Regions from separate parts of the Homo sapiens genome. Here region 1 is linked to region 2. A link means that fine-mapping ties the variant in region 2 to the expression of a gene that starts in the linked region. Tissue or cell type: whole blood. Region 2 holds a variant in brackets; the other region holds the start of a gene. All regions are shown on one strand. Distances are from middle to middle.

The links. PIP is the estimated chance that this variant, and not a neighbour inherited with it, causes the effect.
Region 1: it holds the start of A3GALT2, and the variant in region 2 is fine-mapped to the expression of A3GALT2 in whole blood (TOPMed, PIP 0.98).

The regions. Positions count from the first base shown.
Region 1 is chr1:33,316,280-33,324,279 of GRCh38, forward strand. It overlaps A3GALT2 (alpha 1,3-galactosyltransferase 2), which reads right to left and starts at 4,819. Exons shown (of 5, transcript NM_001080438.1): 1 at 4,797-4,819. The coding sequence starts at 4,819. PHC2 (polyhomeotic homolog 2) reads right to left here. Exons shown (of 15, transcript NM_001385109.1): 15 at 7,347-8,000.
Region 2 is chr1:33,444,271-33,455,200 of GRCh38, forward strand. No RefSeq gene overlaps it. Among named protein-coding and RNA genes, the nearest start is that of PHC2, 19 kb to the left of the region's middle. RefSeq lists an enhancer at 10,598-10,930. The variant CAAAGA/C (reference allele first, on the strand shown) is at 4,706.

The DNA.
Region 1 (8,000 bases), 130 kb before region 2:
AGGGATGAGGCTGCAGAGGTGAGCCGGGGCCAGGTCACCCAGGGCCCGCATGTCAGGCTCGGGGAATTGGACTTCATCTTGAGGGTCATGGGGAGCCCTGAAAGGTATTTCCTCTGGGGAGTGACTCAGTCAGATTTTTATTTGAAAAAACAAAACAAAACAAAACAAAAAACCCAAAAACCAACAAACAAAAAAACCCTCCACAAACCTGAAAGTACTCCAGCTGAAATCTGGAGCCTGGCCATGGTGGGGTGGCAGGGAGGGCACTGCTGGAGGCAGGAAGATGAGTTAGGTGCCAGCCCCTGGGAGGTATCAGGGGCAACACCAGGGAGTTGGCAGCTGGATGGGGAGGAATAGGTGGTGAGGGGCTGTCAGGGAGGGCACATGGGCAAGACTTGGCCATGGATTTGAGGGACGGGGCTGAGGTACCAGAAAGGAGAAGATGCCTGGTTGTCTGGTTGGAGGAAGGGGGCTGGAGCCCAGAAGGCAGGCAGGCTCAGGAGAAAGTTCTGGGATTTGCCAGGAGGGCAGGGATGTTATGGGAGAGAGGGAGAGAGTACAGAGGGAGAGGAGGCCAGGGCCCAGGCCTAGACCAGGTGGGAATGGGAGGGAGACTGAGGAGGTAGAGGACTTAAGGAGAGGCACATGGGTTGGGTGGGAGTGGGGCTGTCTTTCCAGAAGTCGGGCTGTAAGGAGGACAGAGATGGGGTGGCAACTGGAGGGGACAGGGTGGTTGTATTGATGGGTGTGTGCTTGTTTCCCTTACACAAGCGAGACTTGAGCTTGGTTGAATGCTGCCTGGAAAGCACCCACAGAGAAGGCGTTTTGGGTCACAGGGAGAGGCATTATCTCAGCTCCTCAAATATAACTGAAGAAGGCTTTAGTGTCCAGCTGAAGGGACTGGCAAATAAACGTGTTAGGAAGACTCTGCAGTCACGTAGAAAAATGCTCATACAGGAACATGAAAGGAAAAAAGCAGGATCTAAAATTGAGGTGCACTCTGATTACAATTTAAGCAAGAATAAAAACGTGCATCAGAAAATAAGACTAAAAGGAAGAATGTGTTTGTGCAATAAAATTAGTTTCTTATTTTCTCCTCAATTTTCTGTAATGTATTTACAGTAGGTTGCTTTTTTAATGAAGGAAAAATTCAAAGTTAGCAATTTACACACAAAAAAATTGAAGTTATTTTGTGGTTTCCTGCTGAGTGCAGGACACCGTCCACATCTCTTAACCATGCCTGAGAAGCCTCCCAAGTCCAGCTCCTCCACTGTAACACTGTCAGTGCTCACAGCCCCTGGCCAGCTTGCCTGCAGCTAGGAATGGAGACTCTGCAGTGACTAGTCCCAGGATGTTCCCATAGCCTTCTCTGAAAAAGCAAACTAATGCAACAACCCCAGGGTTCATCAGTAGGGAACTGGATCAATGAATTAGGCATCTCTATACAGGTTGGGTATCCTTTATCCAAAAGTTTGGACCAAAAGTGTTTTGGATTTTGGACTTTTTTGGAGTTTTGAATATTTGCATTGTATTTACTGGCTAAGTATCCCTAATCTGGAAATCTGAAATTCAAAATGCTCCAGTGGGAGCATTTCCTTTGAATGTCCTGTCAGTGCTCAAAAAATTTCGGATTCTAGAGCGTTTTGGATTTCAGATTTTTGGATGAGGGGTGCTCAACTTGTATAATAGAAATCAACATGGCTATTGAAAAGGGTGAGGTAGATTTATATGTACTCTCTGGAAAACAGACCCTAATGTGTTAAGGTGAAAAGGAAGGAATAACTAATACGGAGAGGCAGACCTTGCTTCTGGCAGGGGGAAGCATCTGTGCCTGTGCACTCGAGCCTTTGCAGTCACGTATAGCCGCGTTCTTTCATGAGTGTAGGAAGAGATCTTGAATAGCATCATCCAGTGGAAGTATAGTGTGAGTCACATGTAATTTAAACATGTCTAGTAGCCACATTAAAACAGTGAAACAGGTATAAATTCGGATGTGCTGGTTTAAATAAAAATATTGTTACAAATAATTTAATGCCCCACATGCAGCCCATCAGCAAACCCTGGGGGTTCTCCCACTCACTCTCCTCCGTCCCCCTACTCACTCCTCCCCCATCCTGCCATTCACTCTCCCCTTCCTGTGTTCTCAGCGATTGATCCCAGTGACCCAAGTGGGACCCCTGCTTTCTCTCCCGACAGCCAAGTTGTTGCTTTTGCCTCCTTCCTAGTGCCCAAAACTCCCCTCCTGGCCTCCCTCACTGTCCTATCTGTGCCTCCTTGTTTCTCACTTGGATTCCTATAACAGCCTCCTGACCCTGCCTCCGAGTCTCCATCTTTTACCCTTCACTATGAAGTCTCCTAGGCTTCCCCACCTCTGTATTCTGTTCTGATTGCACTCTTCCTTCCATCAGCCAACAAGCTCCGCATCATTCCTCAGCACCCAGCTTCCTCCTGTCTGAAGCTGGCCTTGACATCTCCTCCGTTAGGTCCCTCCCCCAGGATGTGCCTCTGTCCCTTTCCCAGACCTCTCCTCCAGTACCTGCCAAGCGATGCTAGGGACTGTCTGCCTCACTCATTATGCCTCTGCCTCATAATTCATGCTATTGATAATTATTTGTTCAGCAAATGAATGAAACAACGAATGAGTTATTTGTGTTCATTCTCTCTTCCAAGTTGACTGGTACTCCTTTGCTTAAAACTCCATTTTCTTCAAGATTAAGTCTGCACTCCTTATGCATAATCCCAGACACTGAGACGGATACCTGGCCAAGTGTATTATGTGCCTGTCCTGTTAAAGGCACACCACAGCCCCTTGAAGGAGATGCTGTGCTTATGTCTACTTTATAAATGAGGAAACTGAGGCTTAGAAAGGTTAAATCACTTGCTTAGGGTTGCAGTTGCTCAGGGGAGAAAGCAGGGGTCCATTTGGGTCACTGGGATCAATCGCTGAGAACATAGAAGGAAAGATCAAGGAAATGCAAACTGCAGCTTGAGAAGCACTGAGTTGGGACACTCAGGTGAATACTGCTGTCCAGGGGACACACAATACCTCAGGGCAGCGCTCAGCAAGGGGGCTGGGCCAGGGTCACTGTGTGAGAGAGGATGCATGGAGGCTTGGAGCAGATCTCAGTGACAGCTCACCTCTGCAAGGCTGGGCGGCCTCATTGGTGTGAATCAGATGCACCACATCTTCTTTTAGGAGTAGGTTTGGTTCCCTCCCTCTTTGCTACACATATAACAAACTCAGGTGGGGCCTGGTTTTCATTTTCTTCCATAAAGGGAAAATTAAGGTCCAGAAAGTGAAAAGAACTGCCCAGAGTCCTATAGGCCAGTGGTGCACCTGCGCACGTGGCCTGCACTCCAGCAGCAGGAGAGGAGGCAGCACATGGGGCGTTCGTTCTTGCCTGGGGGCTCCCCACGGCTCACTCCCCAATCTCAGCATCCTCTCCTCCCCTGTCAGCTCAGGGTCCTGCCAGTCATTCCCTGCCTCCTGGGGCACCAGGCTTTCCAGTCCCTAGTTCTACCCCCTGGGGATCAACTAATCAGCTTGTTTCTCCTCCAATAAGTATCCGTGTTCTTTAGGTGAAAAGCCCCAACCTACTGCAGGTTTTCAGGGTGCACCTTCAGTAGGCATTTGCCATTCCTGTTTACACTTTACACCAAGGCATTTGCACGGCGGGTAATGGGTGGGGTTGGGCTTTGAGTAGGACTGCCCGATCCCCCAGCCAGAGCTTCCAGCATGGCATTTGGGTTCCATTTGACCTGGGCCTAGCTCAGCCCTGAGGCTCATCTCACAAGGTTCTCGGCCCTGTTATTTCTCCCCGTGGGCTTGGCTTCTTCCCTTCGCACTCTATTCAGCTCCTGTCTGAGCTCCTGGAGGGCTGGCTGCAGCTGGGCTTCTCTGGTTCCTAGAAGCCTGGTCAAACCCCGTACTGGGAGCTGGCAAGGCTGCCTCGGGAGGTGCACTGTGGGAGGTGTGCGAGGTACTGCGTAAGGTACTACAGGAGCAGGAAAAGGCTGGAGGGGCTTTCTCCCCCTCTGTGGCTGTCCCACCCTCTTCACCAGCCTCCTCCCAACCAGGGTAGGGCAAACCGATGCTTATTCTGGGCTCTGGGCCTCAGCCAGGGCACACAGGCAGAGTTGGTCTTGTGAACTCCTGTGGTCAGGCCTGGGAGGGTGCTGAGACCCAGGACTGGGTGGGACCCACCAGCTCCTCCTGCCCCTCCTATGCCCCAGCCTGGGAGCCCGTGGTCTGTGGAGGCCCCTGATCAGTCCACTCCTCCACATTTCTTGTTCAGGTTCTACCTGCAGAAGGTGGTCCCTCAAGCTCCACCCTGTGCCCTGCTCCCCACTCTCGTTGGCTTCAAGAAAGGGTTAAAGATCAGCCATTAGGTCTTAAGGGGGCACAGGTTCCTAGTCCTGGACCATCAGTCCCAGTGGGGATAGAGGGAGCTCTCAGTTACAGTCGGGGAGGGAATGTACCCCCGGGTCTCTGCTTTCCGGCTCGCCAAGGGGGTTTAGAGTTAAGGGAAGCAAGGGGAGTCCAGCTTTTCATTGGCTACAAAATCTTGTGGAATACAACCTCCCCCACCCCGGTGTCCATGCACACGGATTGTCTTTCTTCTCCTGGGGCAATGTCCCCTCTCGGAGCCACCTTTCCCCAGGACTGGAGGCTCAGCTGGTACTCCTGGGCTCACTCTGGTGCCTCCCCTTGGTACTGTTTTAGCCATCAGACTGGATCCCTCTTAGCTCAGCTGTCCCCAAGCTTTCTTCCTCTCCATACCATTGTCCCCCCTCACCTGAGTCCCTCCTTGAGAGCCATATGGGGAAGCAGGTAGGATGGCCTGGAGCAAACTTTCCCAGCTTAGAGCTGGGGAAGAAATGGCCTGCTCCTGGAGATCTGGAACAAGCAGCTCCTCCCCCTTTACCTGAGGAGCTGCACCCACAGGAGCAGTCAGGATGGACTGCCTGCGAGGGACCTGCCGGGGATGCAACCTTTTGGGGGAAGCTGGCCCCAAGGTGGAGTGGGGCTGGCAACCCTTTTGGGGCCAATCACCTGGAAGAGGGTGGGTCTGAGTAGGCCAGTTCTGGTTGGCTGGAGGCTCTGTCATTTTGTACAGACTCCTCTTCCCTCCCCAGGGGAAGTGTCTTTGGTTCTTGGGAACAGCTGGCAATCAAGGTATGGTGTTTGCCACGCAGGAAAAGCCGTTCTGCACAGAGCCTCAGCCAGATCTGAAGGGCACTCGGCACCTGTGACCTTGGACAGTTCACCTAGTGGAGCCCTTTACCTTCTCAGTAGAATGTACACCAGTACATACACCAGTCACCCAGGAGAGAGAACCATGTAAATTCGTGGATGTTGAACCGTTGTGATTTACTCTGGGCAGTGCTTTTTAAAGTTCCAGTTGTGACCTATCTGAAGGCCGTGTAATGAGTTTAGTGGGTCGTGACCAAGATTTTTAAAATACGAACAGGAATACAATGGAAAATATTCTATATTGTACGTAAGGGTAGGTTTTGTTTCATGAAATGTTTGTTTCAGTTGATAGATATTGAAATGTGTATACAAGTTTGGGAAATATTTCTTTAAATTGTGGATCATGATGGAAATAGGTCTGTGAAATTCAGTGTGAAGTGTAAACAACAGGAATAGCAAATGCCTATTGCAGGTGCACCCTGCAAACTTGCAGCAGGTTGGAGCTTTTCATCTAAAGAAGATGGATACTTATTGGTGTGAATCAAATTCACCACATCTTCTTTTAGGAGTAGGTTTGGTTCCCTCCCTCTTTGCTACACACAACAAACTCAGGTGGGGCCTGGTTTTCATTTTCTTCCATAAAGGGAAAATTAAGGTCCAGAAAGTGAAAAGAACTGCCCAGAGTCCTATAGGCCAGTGGTGCACCTGCGCACGTGGCCTGCACTCCAGCAGCAGGAGAGGCGGCAGCACATGGGGCGTTCGTTCTTGCCTGGGGGCTCCCCAGGGCTCACTCCCCAATCTCAGCATCCTCCTCCTCCCGTCAGCTCAGGGTCCTGCCAGCCATTCCCTGCCTCCTGGGACAGGCTTTCCAGTCCCTAGTTCTACCCCCTGGGGATCAACTAATCAGTGTGTTTCTCCTCCAAGACAGTTCCATTTTAATAGGCTTTCCAAAGAGGAGTTATTAAGATGTGAGTGTTGGTTCTTGAAAGTTACTTTCAAGTAAGTAATTGTCCTTTAGAGACTGTGATTCAGTAGGTTGTGGCCTGACCCTCAAACCACCCCCACCCCTGCTTTTTTTTTAAAAAAAAATAGGGTTTTTGTCTGTCACCTGGGTTGGGGGTGCAGTGGTGCAATCATAGCTCACTGCAGCCTTGAACTCTTGGGCTCAAGTGATCGACCTCAGCCTCCAGAATAGCTGGGATTACAGGTATGCACCACCTTGCCATTTTTTGGTATTTTTTTGTAGATATGGGGTCTCTCTATGTTGCCCAGGTTGGTCTCAAACTCCTGGCCTCAAGCAATCCTCCCACATCGGCCTCCCCAAAGTGCTGGGTTTACAGATGTGAGCAGCCATAACCTAAATTTTTAACAGGTAGAAATGGTCCCTTAGGGAAAAACCTGATGAAGGGGGAGGAGCAGTAAGGCCAAGCTGCCTCTTTTTCCCCTCCCCCCATAGATGTGGGGTAGATTTCACTCCACGCAAGAGGGCACATGGTTATTCTGTGCTTCACCCCAGTCTCATTTCTAGCACAGTGCCTGGTTCAGAGGCATGTGGTCAACACAGGTCACGGTTAGCAGCACACACGTCTAATCCAGCCAGCTCACCTGCCTCTCATTTGCACTTCCACGTTCATGCTTGTGCCTTTGCACTTATGCCTCGGTCTGGAATGCCCTTTCTCCTTCTTTATTCAAGGCTTAGATGCCTCATCTCTGCCCTAATCATTTTCTATTTGAGCATGCAAAAGTGCTCAGTGAACCAAAGCCATCCCAAGGCTATTCTGGATGCTGTGCAGCTCTATCGAGAGGTGTGTGCTGGAAGATGGGAGAGTCTGGGTTCTGCCCCAGGTGTCCAGAGGCTGCTAGCCCAACAGTCATCATCTCCCAAGTGGGAATGGCGGGTAGGGGGGCGCAGAGCAGAAAGGGCTTCTGGACCCTCTCACTCCAAGGGACACCGTGTGAAGAAAGCTGGTATCTACCGTGTGAACTGCAGCTGAGGGCACCCTCAAATGACCCAGCTCCAGAAAAGTGTGGAGGATATGCCATCCACTTAAGGTCCCTTCCCCAGCCCAGGGACCCACCTGTCTGTATGGGTGAAAAGTAGCCATTTGGGCCCAGAGACAGGCATTCCTAGGGGAGAAAGGCACCAAAGAGACAGATTTTACAGATTTATTTTTAAAAAACAAAACAAAGGTTAAAAAAGTCCTTCATTTCCAACCCTGCCTGGGGGTGTGGGTGGGGAATAGAATAAGCTCAGAAAGGTGCCTACCTCCTTCCTGCAAAGGACACGGCAGGTCAGAGGCAGGCCCTCGCCCTTTCTGCCCTGCCTCCTCCTCAGGTAGCTCAAATTGCTGCTAGGAAGATTTATAGGCAAAGAAGTGTGGGAGTGGGAGGCCAAGAGCTGCCTTCTTCACATCAACAGAAACTCCAGCTGTTCTTTCCCCTTAGCAGTTCTCTGAGCCTCACCACTGGGACTCCCAGGGTGGGCGGGCAGGCAGGCCAGGAGGCTCAGCCCTTTGGGCTATGTTGCTCAGACCACCGCAGCTTTCTTAATGCTCTTTGTGAACCAGGAGGGCGGTCAGGGGAACTTCACAGTGCGGGGAGGGGTGTCTGGAAAGGAAACTCTGAAGCGCCGTCTCTTTCTGACCTTGCCTCTGCGCTGAGGCTGCCATTCTTGGCTATTCCCCATCCTGAGGCTGAGTGGAGTCCAGGACAAAGCACTAAGTGGCTGTTTGCTACAAAACACCTGGAGATGCCAGAGAGTAGCCCTTGGCCTATCTGTCAGTCCAGGCTCCCACACAGTCACACA
Region 2 (10,930 bases):
TCAGTAACCTTCTGAAGTGGGTTTTATTGCTGAACTCATTTTACAGATGAATAAATAGGCTCAGTGAGGTGGAGTGCTTTGCCCAAAGCTACCCACTTAGGAAGTGTTGGAGCCCCAAATTCAAACCCGTGTCTGTCTGTCTCCAGAGGCTGAGTTTAAAAAATGACAAAGAGACAGCAGGCCTAGGCAACCTGTTTTTTGGAGTCAAATAGGTTTGGATTCAAATCCTGGCTTTGCCATTTTCTAACTTTGTGATCTGAAGCAAGTCAATGTCCTTCTGAAGCCTCAGTTTTTTTCATCTGTGAAGTAGGGAGAGCAGAACCTAGCTGGCAACATTGTTATAAAGATTAAGAATAATGTATATAAGATGTATATGAATGCTTGATAAATGGTAATGTTACTATCGCCATCACCATCCTTATTCTTGCCTGTCATCTTTCCTCACCATGTTCAAGTAGATGGCAGAGTGCATGCAAAGCCTGCAAGCATGAAAGAGGCAGCATTTTTGGAGAGCTGAATCCAGCCTTACTTGATTATGAGAAAGAGGGGTGCACTTTCTTTTACTACCAGGGAAAGGTGGTATATTTTAGGGATAATTGTGGATCCTATCTGATATGGTTTGGCTGTGTCCCCACCCAAATCTCACCTTGAATTTTAATAATCCCCATGTGTCAAAGGCAGGGTCAGGTGGAGATAATTGAATCATGGGGGTGGTTCCCCCATACTGTTCTCGTGACAGTGAATAAGTTTCACAAGACCTGATGGCTTTATAAATGAGAGTTCCCCTGCACATGCTGTCTTGCCTGCTGCCATGTAAGACCTGACTTTGCTCCCCATTCACCTTTCACCATGACTGTGAGGCCTCCCCAGCCACGTGGAACTGTGAGTCAATTAAACTGCTTTCCTTTATAAATTACCCAGTCTCGGGTATGTCTTTATTAGCATCATGAGAACAGTCTAATACACTATCTATGACTGGATCCAAGGTGGCTATGGGTCCTCCGCAGGCTGGATGCACGGGTCATCACGGCGCACATCACATCCTGCTTCTGTCCTTCCTGCTGGACCCTGCAGGAAGTTTTGGTTTCCCTAGCACTTAGTTTTGGTTTCCCTAGCACTTGGGCATGGACATGGTCCATTGTAGCTTCATTAGCTCTCTCTACATTATAAATCTAAGACTCTTCAGTCTTAGATCCTTTTGGTAAGTGGCTCATTATTTGTTTCTTTAATTCAGAATCTACAAGAGAGAACCTAATTGGTCTAAGCTCACCATTTTATGCAGCACGAATCTGAATGAAGGAGGCATGCATACCTGAACAAAATCAGGCTTCTGTGGAGTAAAAAGAAAGTAAGCGGTGGAGGATAGTTGCTGGGAAGGCAATCAACAGTGACCACTACATTACACAAATCATTATTGAATCACAAATTGTGATAAACACTTGGAAGAGGTACAGGGTGCTAAAAGAGTGGGTAACAGGAGGACCTAAATTATATTGGGTGTCAGGGAGGAGGTTTTATAAGGCCTATAGATTGCCTTCCTTCCAACCAATACTCTGTTACTTAGAGTATGGGCCAAGCTGCTATAACAAAAATGTCCCCAAAATATAATAGCTTAAATGAGATATGAGTTTATTTTATAGTCCAGAGAGGAGCAGTCCATGGCTGCAGGGCTAGCTCTGATCCAGGGTGTCTTCTGGGGACCAGGTTGGTGAGTTGATGCTACTACCCTTAACATGAGCCTCCCACCTCTTGCTCCGCAGCACCAAGAATGCTCACATCCTAGTGACAAGAGCTCAGAGTGCCACGCCCAGCTGCAGGGGAGGATGGGGAAGGTAGAGTACTACTGGGCATTTGTATTCTCCAGTAAAACTCTGTGGGGGGTGTTGAACAAAAGGAAGGGATGGAGGCTCATTGAGGGCAATCCCAAGCCTCTGCTATGGGTACCCTGCCCTTGGGGGAGGAGATGAAGAGCTCAAGGGCTTTGGAATAGTTAGATGCAGTAGGGAGGCCCAGTAGGATGTGGACAAAAGGAGCCCACTGGGCTTGGCATTTAAGAGTTTCTATGGCCTCAAAGGGCAGGAGCCAGTCTGCAGGGTTGAGGATGAGAAGTGAAGATATGGAGCTGGAAGAATTAGACAATTCTTTTGAGTCATTTGGAAGAGCAGGGAAGGAAAGAGAGACAGAAATAGCCAAATCTAGAACAAAAGAACAAAGGAGGCCTTTTAAAAACCATTTGGGAGAACTTTGAGAATGTTTGCAGGCAAAAAGAATTATTTTAGTAGAAGAGAGTTTGAAGATGTGGGAAAGAGAGGAGTCAGTACCCCATTGAGGCAGTTCTCAGAGCAGGCAGGAAGGAATCAAGCACAAAGATGGAGAGACAGAAACATTTCTTCTGAGATGAGAGGAAGGCAGTGAGGACAGGTGGGGAAGTGGTTACATTTGTGGATATGGGGTGGGGAGGTGAGTCAAACAATCCCTGCCCTATAGCTCTTTTTTCTGAGTAAACCAGGAGGGAGGGGATTCCTGGCACAGAAGGGGCAGAGGGTTTATCAGCAATGAAGGGATCTGGGCAGCCAGGCCTAGATTCAGTCGGGTTCAGGGTCACGTGACTTTGACTCACATATCCATAGTCTACCAAAGCCAGCTCAATCTAGCTTAGAGAAAAAGTATGATTTTTTTTTTTTTGATGGAATTTCACTGTTGTTGCCCAGGCCGAAGTGCAGTGGAGCGATCTCAGCTCACTGCAACCTCCTCCTCCCGGGTTCAAGAAATTCTGCCTCATCCTCCCGAGTGGCTGGGATTACAGACATGTGCCACCATGCCCGGCTAATTTTGTATTTTTAGTAGAGACGGGGTTTCTCCATGTTGGTCAGGCTGGTCTCGAACTCCCGACCTCAGGTGATCCGCCTGCCTCGACCTCCCAAAGCGTTGGGATTACAGGCGTGAGCCATTGCACCCGGCCCGGAGTATCTTAATACCAAAGGCAGGAGGGCCTCTGGGCTTCAGGAAGAGCGTGGATCCAATGAACTGGATAGCTCTACGCTCTCAGTGGGGGGTCCATGGCATATGGGGCAAGGAGGAAATGTGAGGAGTAGCCAAGCTTGAGATATCCCTGGGGATGCAGGAGTTCTAGAACCTTGAAAGGGAACTGGGTTCCTGCCTTGATTTAGGTGTGGGGTTGAAATACCAACATCTGGATCTAAATTACAGTATAGTTTCATTTGTAGCCATAAGCTAGGGCAGCTTGGAGGACATCTAAATTACATTTTGGGGAGTGTAACAGTCAGGATTCCAGCAGATAACAGTTGACACCCTCACAACGGGTAACCTGAGAAAAGTTTAATAAAGAGTCTTTACAAATGTGTGAGCAGGATTTAGCCAAAGCACAAGAGACAGTGCAGAACCTGGGGCCGGTGACAGGAAAACTAGACCTGAAAGTGTGAGAGGAAAGAGAAGTTGCTTGAACTCAGAGAGGCCTCTGTGGAGAGGGCCATCCTGCAGGAGCTGAGATCTTCCACTAAGGGATGCGGCAGCCCGTGGCAGCCTCGCAGAGGCGTCAGAGGAGTCCATATCTTACCCCTATCCTCCTCCCACCCTCCAACTCCTGCCAGTGCTCTCACTGGCTAAGCCCAGCAGGAAGCCAGAGGACAAGAGAGCTCACTGATGTGGTTGGTTCCTAGAGTTTATGTGCTTGGCATCCAAAGCAAGGTGGAAAAAGGTGGAGAGTGGGTCTGGAGGGGCAAATGGAAGAGCACAGGAGGCTTATTCATGGTTGTACTCTGCACACACACACCATAGATGCATTATCCTTGTCCAAATACCTGACTACGGTTTGTGACACTAACAGGAGAGCTAGAGGCCTTGCCTCTGAGGGTGAAGGGCTCTCCAGTAAGGGAAGGGTTCTGGCCCTGATTTACAAGGGAGCAGAAGAGAAAGCTTCTGAGAAAAGAACTTAAACTTTGTCCATGATTAGGGGTTAGTTATGAACAAGTATGTTGGGCCAACTGGGAGAGAAGGAGGCAGTGACAGAGGGCAAATGAGAGGAAAAAACTATGAGGTAGAATCCATTCAACTGGATATGCAGTGTGGTTGGCCGAATAACAGCCCCCCAAAGATGTTCACTTCCTCATCCCTGAAACCCGTGAATACATGACTTTACACAGCAAAAGGGACTTTGCAGGTATAATTAACTTAGGATTTTTTAATGGAAAGATTACCCTGGATTATCCAGGTAGGCCCAGTGTAATCACAAGGGGCCTTATAAGAAGAAGACAGCAGCCTGGGCGACAGAGCAAGACTCTGTCTCAAAAAAAAAAAAAAAAAAAAGAAGTAGAAGAAGGCAGGAGGGACAGTCACAGAAAGTGATACGAGAAGAAAAAGTAGAGACTGAACGATAGTAGTGACACAATCTATCAAATCCTCTGGGTTACAGCAAAAGCAGTGCTAAGAAGAAAGTTAATATCATTAAATGCCTACATCAAAAAGTCTGAAAGAGCACAAATAGACAATTTAAGGTCACACCTCAAGGAACTAGAGAAATAAGAACAAACCAAACCCAAACCCAGCAGAAGAACAGAGATAACCAAAATCAGAGCAGAACTAAATGAAATTGAAACAACAACAAAAACAATACAAAAGATAAATGAAACAAAAGGTGCGTCCCTTGAAAAGATAAATCAAATTGATAGACCATTAGCGAGAGTAA[CAAAGA/C]AAAGAAGAGAGAAGATCCAAATAAGCTCAATTAGAAATGAAACGGGAGCTATTACAACCAATGCCACAGAAATGCAAAAGATCATTCAAGGCTACTATGAACATCTTTATGAGCATAAACTAGGAAACCTAGAGAAGATGGATAAATTCCTGGAAATATACAACCCTCCTAGATTAAACCTGAAAGAAATAGAAACTCTGAAAGACCAATAACAAGATTGAAATGGTAATTAAAAAGTTACCAACAAAAAAAAGTCCAGGACCAGATGGATTTACAGCTGAATTTTATCAGACATTCAATGAAGAATTGGTACCAATCCTATTGACACTCTTCCAAAAGAGAGAAAGAGGGAAATCCTCCCTAAATCATTCTATGAAGCCAGTATCACCCTAATACCAAAACTAGGAATGGATATAACAAACAAAGAAAACTACAGACAAATATCCCTGATAAACATAGATGTAAAAATCCTCAACAAAATACGAGCTAACCGAATCCAGTAGCATATCAAAAAGATAATCCACTATGATCAAGTGGGTTTCATACCAGGGATGCAGGGATGATTTAACATCCACAAGGCAATAAGTGTGATACACCACATAAACAGTAAGCAGAATTAAAAACAAAAATCACATGATCATCTCAATAGATGCAGAAAAGCATTTGACAAAATCCAGCATCTCTTTATGATTAAAACCCTCAGCAAAATCGGCATAGAAGGTAATAAAAGCCATCTGTAACAAACCCACAGCCAACATTATACCAAATGGCAAAAAGTTGAAAGTATTCCCCCTGAGAACTGGAATAAGACAATGATGCCCACTTTCACTACTTCTATTCAACATAGTACTGGAAGTCCTAGCCAGAGCAATCAGAAAAGAGAAAGAAATAAAGGGAATAAAAATCTATAAAGAGGAAGTCAAACTGTCGCTGTTCACCATTGATATGATTGTATACCTAGAAAACGCTAAAGACTTATCTAAAAAGCTCCTGGAACTGATAAGTGAATTCAGCAAAGTTTTAGGATACAAAATTAATGTACACAAATCAGTAGCACTGCTATACACCAACAGTGACCAAGCTGAGAATTAAATCAAGAACTCAACCCCTTTTACAATAGCTGCAAAATAAATAAATAAATAAATAAATAAATAAATACTTAGGAATATGACTAACCAAGGAAATGAAAGACCACTACAAGGAAAACTACAAAACACTGCTGAAAGAAATCATAGACAACACAAACAAATGGAAACACATCCCATGCACATGGATGGGTAGAATCCATATTCTGAAAATGACCATATTGCCAAAAGCAATCTACAAATTCAATGCAATTCCCATAAAAAGATCACCATCATTCTTCACAGAATTAGAAAAAACAACCCCAAAATTCATATAGAACCAAAAGAGTCCACATAGCCAAAGCAAGACTAAGCAAAAAGAACAAATCTGGAGGCATCACATTACTAAACTTCAAACTATACTATAAGGCCATAGTCACCAAAACAGCATCATACTGGTATAAAAATAGGCACAAAGAAATAAACCCAGAAATAAAGCCAAATACTTACAGCCAACTGATCTTCGACAAAGCAAACAAAAGCATAAAGTGAGGAAAGGACAGCCTATTCAACAAACAGTGCTGGGATAATTGGCAAGCCACACGTAGAAGAATGAAGCTGGATCCTCATCTCTCACCTTATACAAAAATCAACTCGAAGTGCATCAAAGACTTAAATCTAAGACCTGAAACCATAAAAATTCTGGAAGATAACATTGGAGAAATCTTCTAGACGTTTTGGCTTAGGCAAAGACTTCAGGACCAAGAACCCAAAAGCAAATGCAACGAAAACAAAGATAAATAGATGGGACTTAATTAAACTGAAAAGCTTCTGCACAGCCAAACAAATAATCAGCAGAGTAAACAGACAACCCACAGAGTGAGAGAAAATCTTTGCAGACTATGCATCTGACAAAAGACTAATATCTATAATCTACAAGAAACTCAAACAAATCGGCAAGAAAAAAAAACAAACAATCCCATCAAAAAGTGGGCTTAGGACATGAATAGTCAATTCTCCAAAGAAGATATACAAATGGCCAACAAACATATGAAAAAATGCTCAACATCACTAATGATCAGGGAAATGCAAATCAAAACCACCATGCGATACCACCTTACTCCTGCAAGAATGGCCATAATCAAAAAATAAAAAAATAATAGATGTTGCTGTGGATGTGGTGAAAAGGGAACACATTTACATGGCTGGTGGGAATGTAAACTAGTACAACCACTGTGGAAAACAGTGTGGAGATCCCTTAAAGAACTAAAAGCAGATCTACCATTTGATCCAGCAATCCTGCTACTGGGTTTCTACCCAGGAGAAAAGAAGCCATTATATGAAAAAGATACTTACACACTATACACCTGTATAGAAACACTGTACTCATTGTGTAGTCTTTTATCCTTCACCCTCCACCCTTTCTCCCCTGAGTCCCCAAAGTCCGTTGTATCATTTGTATGGCTTTGCATCCTCATAGCTTAGCTCCCACTTATGAGTGAGAACATATAATATTTGGTTTTCCATTTCTGAGTTACTTCACTTGGAATAATGTTCTCCAATTCCATCCAGGTTACTGCGAATGCCATTAGTTCATTCTCTTTTCACCATATCCATGCCAACATCTATTATTTTTTGGTTTTTTGATTATGGTCATTCTTATAGCAGTAAAGTGGTATTACATTGCAGTTTTGATTTGCATTTCCTCGTTAATTAGTGATGCTGAGCATTTTTCATCTGGCTGATGGGTGCACTAAAATCTCAGAAATCACCATCGAAGAACTTATCCATGTAACCAAACACCATCTGTTCCCCAAAAACTGTTGAAATAAAAGCAAATAAAATATAAAAGAAAATCAAGTTTCCCAAATTTTGAAATAAAATTTGGATTACAAAAAAGAAAAACCATAAACAACAACAAAAAAATAAAGTTTCTGCACAGCAAAGGAAATCATCAACAAAGAGAAGAGACAACCCAGAGAATGGGAGAAAATATTTGCAAACTACCCATCTGATAAGGGATTAATAACCAGAATATAGGAGGATCTCAAACAACTTTACAAGAAAAAAATCTAATAATCCAGTTAAAACATGGGCAAATGGTTTGGATAGACATTTCTCAAAAGAAGACATACAAATGGCAAACAGGCATATAAAAAGTGCCCAACATTATTGGTCATCAGAGGAATGCAAATCAAAACTACAATGAGATATCCTCTCAACCCAGTTAAAATGGCTTATATTCAAAGGACAGGCAGTAACAAATGCTGATGAGGATGTGGAGATAAAGGAACCCTCATACACTGTTGGTGGGAATGTAAATTAGTACAATCACTATGGAGAAACAGTTGGAGGTTCTACAAAAAACTAAAAATTGAGCTACCATACGACTCAGCAATCCCACCGCTGGGTCTATACCCAAAAGAAAGGAAATCAGTGTATTGAAGAGATATCTGCATTCCTGTGTTTGTCGCAACACTGTTCACAGTAGCCAAGATTTGGAAGCAACTGAAGTGTCCATCAGCAGGTGAATGAATAAAAAAAATGTGGTACTTATACACAATGAAGTGCCACTCAGCCATGAAATAGAATGAGATCCAGTCATTTACAATGACACAGATGGAACTGGAGGTCATTATGCTAAGTGAAATAACCCAGGCACAGAAAGACAAACACTGCATGTTCACACTTACTTTTGAGGTCTAAAAATCAAAACGATTGAACTCATGGGGAGAGAGAATAGAAGGACGGTTACCAGAGGTTAGGAAGGGTAGTGGGGGGCTGTGGAGGAGGTTGGGGTGGTTAGTTCATACAAAAAATAGGAGGAATGAATAAGACCTAGTATTTGATAGCACAACAGGTGACTATAGTCAATGATAATTTAATTGTATACTTTAAAATAACTAAAAGAGTATACTTGGCCAGGCGCAGTGGCTCATGCCTGTAATTCTAGCACTTTGGGAGGCTGAGGCAGGCGGATCACTTGAGGTCAGGAGTTTGAGACCAGCCTGGCCAACGTGGTAAAACCCCGTCTCTACTAAAAATACAAAAATTAGCTGGGTGTGGTGGCAGGCACCTGTAATCCCAGCTATGTGGGAGACTGAGGCAGGAGAAGTGCTTGACCCTGGGAGGCAGAGGTTACAGTGAGCTGAGATTGCGCCACTGTACTCCAGTCTGGGTGACAGAGTGAGACTCTGTCTCAAAAACAAACAAACAAACAAACAAACAACAAAAGAGTATACTTGGATTGTTTGTAACACAATGGATAAATACTTGAGGGGATGGATACCCCGTTTTACAAGATGTGATTACACATTGCATGCCTGTATCAAAACATCTCATGTACCCCATAAATATATACGCCTACTATGTACTCAAAAACATTAAAATAACAAAAAAGAAAAAGAAAAAGAAAAAAAGTAGAGGACAGAATGGGGCCACAAGCCGAGGAATGTGAGGCCTCTAGAAGCTGAAAAAGCCAAGGAACAGGATTCTCCCCTCAAGCCTCCAGAAGAATGCCCTTTTTGGACTTTTGACCTCCAGGGCTGGGAGAGAATACATTTATATTGCCTGTAACCATTACATTTGTGGTAATTTGTTATAGCAGCAATAGGAAACTAATACATGTAGTTATTATTAGGTCTCTCAAACATATTAGGGACTCAGTAAATAGTAGCTGAATGAATGAAGGAGTCTGGAATGAACAACAGAACTCAGCAGAGGATCTGAGGAATGGAGGTGGGTTGTGGCTCTGGGTCCAATATCTGTATGTATCTGTAGATGTGGGGAAAAATAGCCATCTTTCTAGATAATGTACCACCTCAGGACTTGAGCAATTCTGCTGTGGTTCTCCTCTAAGGGGAGGTAGATCAGTTTCTCTATCCTTTTTGGAATAAAAAGGCAAGGCCCAGGATCAGGGTCCCAGGCATTGATTTGCGAGGGGTGTCAGGCAGCAGTTATACAGAACTTGAAGAGGTACCTTAGAGCAAGTGGTGCCATATGAACATCCACCACGTGGAGCACCAGAGTGAAGTCAAAGGCCATCGTGGAAGAGGTGGCGTGAGCAGTGGCCCTGCCTGGCCTAGACAGTGCAGGAATTCCCAAAGACACTGAGGGGCAAAGCAACCTCGTGATGGTTCTGAGCCCTGCAGTTACCTGGTTTGTGCGTGGGGCAATACTGAGCTAGCATGATGTGTGTCCACATGCTATTGTGGCCTCGTTCGAATGAATGAGGTCTATGGCCTCGAGATCAACGCTGTAATACAAAGGGAAGGAGCATGTTACGGATCATATTGTATTCCCCCAAAAAAGATGTGTTGGAGTCCTGACTCCAGCACCTCAAAATGTGACCTTATTTGGAGGTAGTCTTTGCAGAGGCAATTAAAATGAAGTCATTAGGGTGGACCCTAATCCAATATGATCAGTGTCCTTATAAAAAGGGTCAGTTTGAACCCAAAGCTAGGCCACATGGAGGGAAGACCATGTGAAGGGAAGCAGGGAGAAGATGAACATTGACAAGCTAAGGAGAGAGGCCTGGAACAGAGCCTTTCCGCACAGCCCCCAGAAGGAACCGAGCCTTCTGACACCCTGATCTCAGACTTCCAGCCTTCCAAACTGTGAGAGAATACATTTCTGTTATTTAAGCCACCCAGGGAGTGGAACTTTGTTACCGCAGCCCTGGAAAACAAATGCAGAGCCATTCTCCCCTGTTCTGCTTCCTGGCACTACGCACCATCTTGGGGGCTCGGAGAGCTGTGAGGTCTGGCAGGTGAAGGACCAGGCACCCCATGGAGCAGCAGGAAGTGGCAGCTGTGCATGCTCTGCCCAGCAGCAGAGTGGGAGCAGCATACTGCCTGGGCTCCCTGGCAGCATGGCTGCAGGCATCTGCAGAGATCAGCTGTGCCTTGCAGGAGCAGCTGTGTGAAATCAGGCTCAGAAGGGTGGATAAGCTCCACAGAGGAGTGTGGAGAGACCCTGGGGGTCAGCAAGGCAGTGGGGCTACTGTGGGAATGGACTTGCTTTTAGCATAAGTGAGACATGCCCTGGGATAAACTTGGTGGGTGACTCACACCTATAATTGCAGCACTTTGGGAGACCGAGGCGGGCAGATCACTTGAGGTCAGGAGTTTGAGACCGGCCTGACCAACATGGTGAA